Linked DNA regions of Homo sapiens: region 2 is linked to region 1. The links come from fine-mapping of genetic effects on gene expression. A gene starts in region 1. The other region holds a variant in brackets. All regions are shown on one strand. Distances are between the middles of the regions.

Region 1 (2,912 bases):
AGTTTGCAAACACATGAAGTGTGGCTTCAGTGGGGAAATCTACAAAAGGCAGGCATGACTAAGCAACCCAAATAGCTAGAAACACCAGAAACTGTCAGAAGTCTGAGGACCCCAACATGACTGCACATAAGTGTAAGTTGGATTTTCCCATCTATTGTTTCTAGTGCAAATGGGGGTGGAGGGGCTTTGTATGATCGTGTTGGTTTCTTTTTAAATAAAAAACTTCAGTGGTGTACAAGGATTTTCAAACAATATTTTATTCCATCCTCCACTCCACCCACTTAAGAAACAAATTTTGGAACAATCTGACTGAGCTACTGGGCAGACAATTGACCAGACCAAATTTAAGCAATCTACAATGCACTTTTTGATGTTACTTGATTATATATGTCACAAAGGAGGCTCTTAAATCTATAGCTGAACTCTTGGTTAAGGAAACCAAGTCTCAATAATCATGTAAAACACATGTGCTATGTCCCTTAGTGGGCTGTCAAATATACTAACTACTGAATTTTCCTTAAATTCTGACATCTCTAGCTATTTAACTTTCCTTTCTTTAAAAAAATTTTTTTTCTCTAAAAAAATTCAAGAACATCCACCAAAGAGAATAGCTAAAAATAATTAAATAGAAAACCACAATTCATAGATCCCCAGGATAAAATTTCCACAGCATTACAGGTGGAAAGAAAATGCGTGCATACACACACATTTACATAAAGATGTAAAAATATTTATGGCACCCTAAGAAAAAAAATGACAGTGAAAGCAAACAATCCTACCACAACAGGACAAACCTAGTTTTACTATTCTCTTTGCGCAGGTATAAAACTAAACAAATGCACTTGCTGGCGGGGAAGGGAGGACAGAGAGCAATTCCCACTTAAACTTGCTTCATTCAGGAGCTAGGGTAACAAACCAAAGCAGCAGAAAAGGCTCCCGTGCAAAACATAACCAGTCTGAAGGTCCCAAATCGGGAAGAACTAAACTAGGGGAAGGGGGATCCCCGAAGCTCTTGAACAACCCGTTCCCCAAATTTCCATGCCACACAACAGGAGCTGGGGGCTTCCCTCGGACTCCATTTTCAGGCCGCGTTGTCTGCCTTTCAGGCCACGCAGGGTGGGCATTTGGGTGAGGCCGGGGTCCCCCACCCACCTTTCCTCCCCGCCCTCTTCATTGTTGTCGGAGTGTGATGGATCACCTGCCGGGCGCGGGCTCCCGCGGGCGGACCGGCTGAGCGCAAGGACGCGCAGTGACGAGCGCCGCGCGCCTCCCGCAGGACCCGCGCCCCGCGACCCCAACCTACTGCCCGCCCCCACCGCGCTCACCGCCACGAAGCCCGAGGAAGAGGCGATGAACACGCGGATGACCATCCTCTCGCTGCGCCCGGGACAGACCCCTTGCCCCCCGGGCTCCGGGCTGGCGTGGACGCAGAGCTGAACCCAGCTACGAGCCGCCGGCAGCCTCTGGGTAAAGCGCTGCCGTCGGGGAAGATCGCTGGGATCTGGCTCCCTCCCGGCGGGTCCGCAGATAAAAGCCCAGCGCCGCCCGGCCGCAGGCTGAAGGGGAAGGAGAGGGAGGAGGAGGGAGCCGGCTGCGGGGCTTGATGGGATTTGTAGTTTCCGTCTCTCCCTGGAGTGGCTGGTGGACTGAGCTCCCCTCCTGACCGCGCTTCTATCCCGAACACGCGCAGGTGGCTGGAGGGGAGCCACAGCCCGGGCAGAAGCTGTGAGGTGGGTTGGCAAGGATCCTGGCTTGATGAGGAAAAAGCAAACTAGGCAAAAGGGCTCGGTTCAAAGTCCAAGCTTGGGTTCTGTATTGTGGTTTATTGGTTTGGAGCATCCACACCCAGAAATGCCAACAGACACGATCGTGCTGCGGGCACACATCGTCTCAGGGCCGCTGGCGTACCGGGCAAACCCCAGCTACCTGAAGCAGGCGGGATCGGCGAGCCGGGTGCTTGGGAGGTGTGGGCGGTGGGGTTGGGCTCGTTTGTTTGTCCAGTAGCACTGGAGATTGCAGAAAGGTGATTCTTTTGGGTAAATGAGAGGTCTTCTCTTGTCTGTACACACTGAAAATTAGAAACCCAGATGGAAGCACAACCAATATTTTATTTTTCTCAGCAAAACTGTAATTGTAGTAGAAAAAAATAAATACCAAACGAAATTGGAATCCTTCTATCAACATTGGAAATCAGGACCCTACCTGCCCCACCCCTCCCTACACAATGGCTTCGCCTCTGTGCACCTAATATTTACAGTTCAGCCAAATCTGTGCCTTTTTCAGAACCGCTGCACATTCCAGCGCAGTTTCCCAGGAGGATGCTGTTAAATAAAAAGCTTCTATATAGTTGCTAATAGTTTAGGAATAGTTTTTTATCAAGTGCTTTCTGTTTGACAAAAGCTCAAGCCTCTCTCTCAGTTTTGTCGAAAGGAACCAGTTTTCCCTGCTGTACTGTATTTACTTTTTTCCTTTCAACACGGGAGTTTAGCAGAGGTCTGGGAACAATGTTAATTAAGAAAAAGTAAGAAATTAGATGATGAGGTCTCTGGCTCTTTGATACATTTCTTGCACAAAGAGCAATCATTATGAAGTATTTTTTAGAACAGTTATGAATATTTCAAATTTATAACCTTTCCTATTGCTTTTCTTAAAGCCATTTCTGTAGTAGGAATCTTTTTAAATTTCCTTCAATAATAGAAGAGACACTCCTAATGGGACTTTATTTCTTCTTCGTGTTTAAAATTTTAAATAGAAGTTTTGCTGTCTTTAGTATCTCTCGGCAAATGTACTTTAATTTTGCTACCATAAATGTGGAAATGCACGTTTATAAAATAGAAAATAATTTTCTTAAAAGTAGATACCGTATTTCCTATATAAATGCAAATCTTTATAAAAGTCAGCATTTTCTTCAG
Region 2 (2,912 bases), 63 kb before region 1:
TCATTTTTCTCTTCCTACCTTCACAAGAAGGCATCAAGGAATTCTGGTCAATCTGTTCAACTGTTTCTTTTCAAAAGTTTGCATTTATCATATGTAAAGCAGTCTTAAAATTTGGTAATTTGATAACTTTATCCTAAGGATAAATAATGTAAGCAAATGATGATCACAATCATTTTAGGCATTTGCTTTGTGCTAAGTGTCTTATAAATGTTATGTTATTAAATCTTCACCACAGCCTGCCGGGTTAGAGACTGGCTCAAGGCAAAGAAATATGTTGTTCAAGTTTGACAGCTAATAAGTGAGAGAACTGATATTTGGGCTCATGTTTCACTGACCTTGAAATTCACACTTTCTGTACTCTAGGGTGCATCCTGCCCAAAAGGAAACCAAGTATGGGGCACCACGTGTGCTGGAGTCACTGAGCGCTAATGAATCCATTGTTAAGCCAAGCCAACGGCATCTAGACTTGTAGAGATTCGCTTCCTGCAACGCATGCCTTGTCTGATTAAAAAATCTTTGAATTATTTGGTTCTGTGTACAGATCCTCTTCTCCAAAAGCTTTAGCAATTGAGTCTCGTGGTTTGGAAGGCAGTAGCCTCAGGTTTTTCACAGGCTGCTCCTTCTGTCATTTAGGATCAGCTCTAAAGAAAGGCCTTCCTTGACCAAGCCAAGAAGGAGCAACATGTCTGAAAAGAGCGATTTGGCCAAGTCTTCTTTGAAAACTGGCATTTAAGCTTACATCTGAAGGATGAATAGAGTTAGCCAAGTGAAGGACTGGGATGGGAGCATTCTTGGGCAGGGAGCAGCACTAGTGAAGTGTGAAGCTGGCAGGGTGGACAGGGATAAACATATGCTGGGCTTTGTAAACCAAGAAAATGATCTTGAATTTTATCTTAAGTACCAAAAGAAATCATATAAGGGTTTTGAGCAAGGGAGCAAAATGATCTAGTTTCTTTTAAGAAAATACCTAAATAACTGTGCGGAGAATGGCTCAAAAAAAGGGCAGCAAAAAGGAAAGGAGGGGAAAAAGGGGAGTACTTTGGCAATTGCAGTAAGCAATGGTGGCAGCCGAGCTGACGGCAGAGGGCAGCAGACAGGCTGCAGATACATTTTGGGGGTAGAAGTGATCATACTTGGTTGTGGATTTGATGGGGGTGATTAGGGAGAAATAAGAATTAAAGTGGCTCTGAACTTTCTGGCTTGATGAAAAAGACGAGAAAAAACAATCTGAAGGGAAGGTTGGAGTTCAATTTCAACATGTAATATCTGAGAAACTATATGAAACATTGAGTAAAGAAGATATCAGCTGAGCAACTGGAGGTTCCTAATGGCTCTAGGATGTAGAGATTTCATGGAATTTGTACGAAAATTTGTAATTTCTTGTAAGACAAAATATGATCCTAACTATGCCACAAAAACAGGTCAAAGTTTGACATGAAATACAGGCAAAATCTCATGGACTGAAAATGTTACATTCTTTGTAATGAAGCTATTTCCAAAGAGTTGAGTAATAATTCCCTCATGAGAGTTCAATAAATAATTCTGTTCAAAACATACTTTCTCTGCCTGACAATTTGTTGACTATACTGAACGTGGTAAGAGGAGGAAGAGGGCTAAATTACAGCTAGATTTGTTCCAT[C/T]CTTTAAGATATCAACTGTATGTAACTTAGTATACCTGTTCTCTCTATACCATATTCAGCCTCTACTCAGTCGAAGGTCTTTCCCTGGGGAAGCTCATTCACAGCCATGGCCCTAATTAAAATCACAATCTCTTGCCCTGACCTCTCTTCTGAGCTCTGGTTCCATAAAAGTCACTAACTGTTCACAGACTCTTAAACACAACAGGTCTTAACGACAATTCATGATCTTCCACTCCACAAACTAGACGTCTCAGAAAATGGCACCACTATTTACTGGGCCCTGTAACTCCAAAATCAACACATCACAGGACTCCTTTCTTCCCTCAACCACTAGTTTATATATCCCTTAAGCCTCTCAATTTTTCCACGTTGGTCTCTACCAACCTGATCTAAGCTAGACTTCTGCAACAGCACCCCAACTTATCAACCTTTGTCTAATCTCACTATTTCTACCCCATCATTCTCTCAAAGTGAAGACAGACTGATGTTTATAAAAACAGATTTGATAAACCGAATCCAGCAGTATATCAAAAAGCTTATCCACTATGATCAAGCGGGCTTCATCCCTGGGATGCATGGCTGGTTCAATATATGCAAATCAATAAATGTAATCCAGCATATAAACAGAACCAAAGACAAAAACCACATGATTATCTCAATAGATGCAGAAAAGGCCTTTGACAAAATTCAACAACGCTTCATGCTAAAAACTCTCAATAAATTAGGTATTGATGGGACGTATCTCAAAATAATAAGAGCTATCTATGACAAACCCACAGCCAATATCATACTGAATGGGCAAAAACTGGAAGCATTCCCTTTGAAAACTGGCACAAGACAGGGATGCCCTCTCTCACCACTCCTATTTAACATAGTGTTGGAAGTCCTGGCCAGGGCAATCAGGCAGGAGAAAGAAATAAAGGGTATTCAATTAGGAAAAGAGGAAGTCAAATTGTCCCTGTTTGCAGATGACATGATTGTATATCTAGAAAACCCCATTGTCTCAGCCCAAAATCTCCTTCAGCTGATAAGCAACTTCAGCAAAGTCTCAGGATACAAAACCAACGTACAAAAATCACAAGCATTCCTATACGCCAATAATAGACAAACAGAGAGCCAAATCATGAGTGAACTCCCATTCACAATTGCTTCAAAGAGAATAAAGTACCTAGGAATCCAACTTACAAGGGATGTGAAGGACCTCTTCAAGGAGAACTACAAACCACTGCTCAATGAAATAAAGGAGGATACAAACAAATGGAAGAACATTCCA

Alleles and levels. Positions count from the first base shown, and alleles are read on the strand shown. Sizes are in standard deviations (SD) of each study's normalised expression.
For the expression in prefrontal cortex of the gene that starts at base 1,503 in region 1, allele T in region 2 goes with a higher level than allele C (moderate effect, 0.53 SD a copy in BrainSeq).

What was found. PIP is the estimated chance that this variant, and not a neighbour inherited with it, causes the effect.
Region 2: its variant is the best candidate, but not a certain one, in a credible set for the expression of SH3BGRL2 in prefrontal cortex (BrainSeq, PIP 0.53).

The regions. Positions count from the first base shown.
Region 1 is chr6:79,629,920-79,632,831 of GRCh38, reverse strand. It overlaps SH3BGRL2 (SH3 domain binding glutamate rich protein like 2), which reads right to left and starts at 1,503. Exons shown (of 4, transcript NM_031469.4): 1 at 1,326-1,503. The coding sequence starts at 1,370.
Region 2 is chr6:79,692,992-79,695,903 of GRCh38, reverse strand. The region is part of intron 2 of SH3BGRL2 (SH3 domain binding glutamate rich protein like 2); the gene reads right to left. Among named protein-coding and RNA genes, the nearest start is that of SH3BGRL2, 63 kb to the right of the region's middle. The variant C/T (reference allele first, on the strand shown) is at 1,640.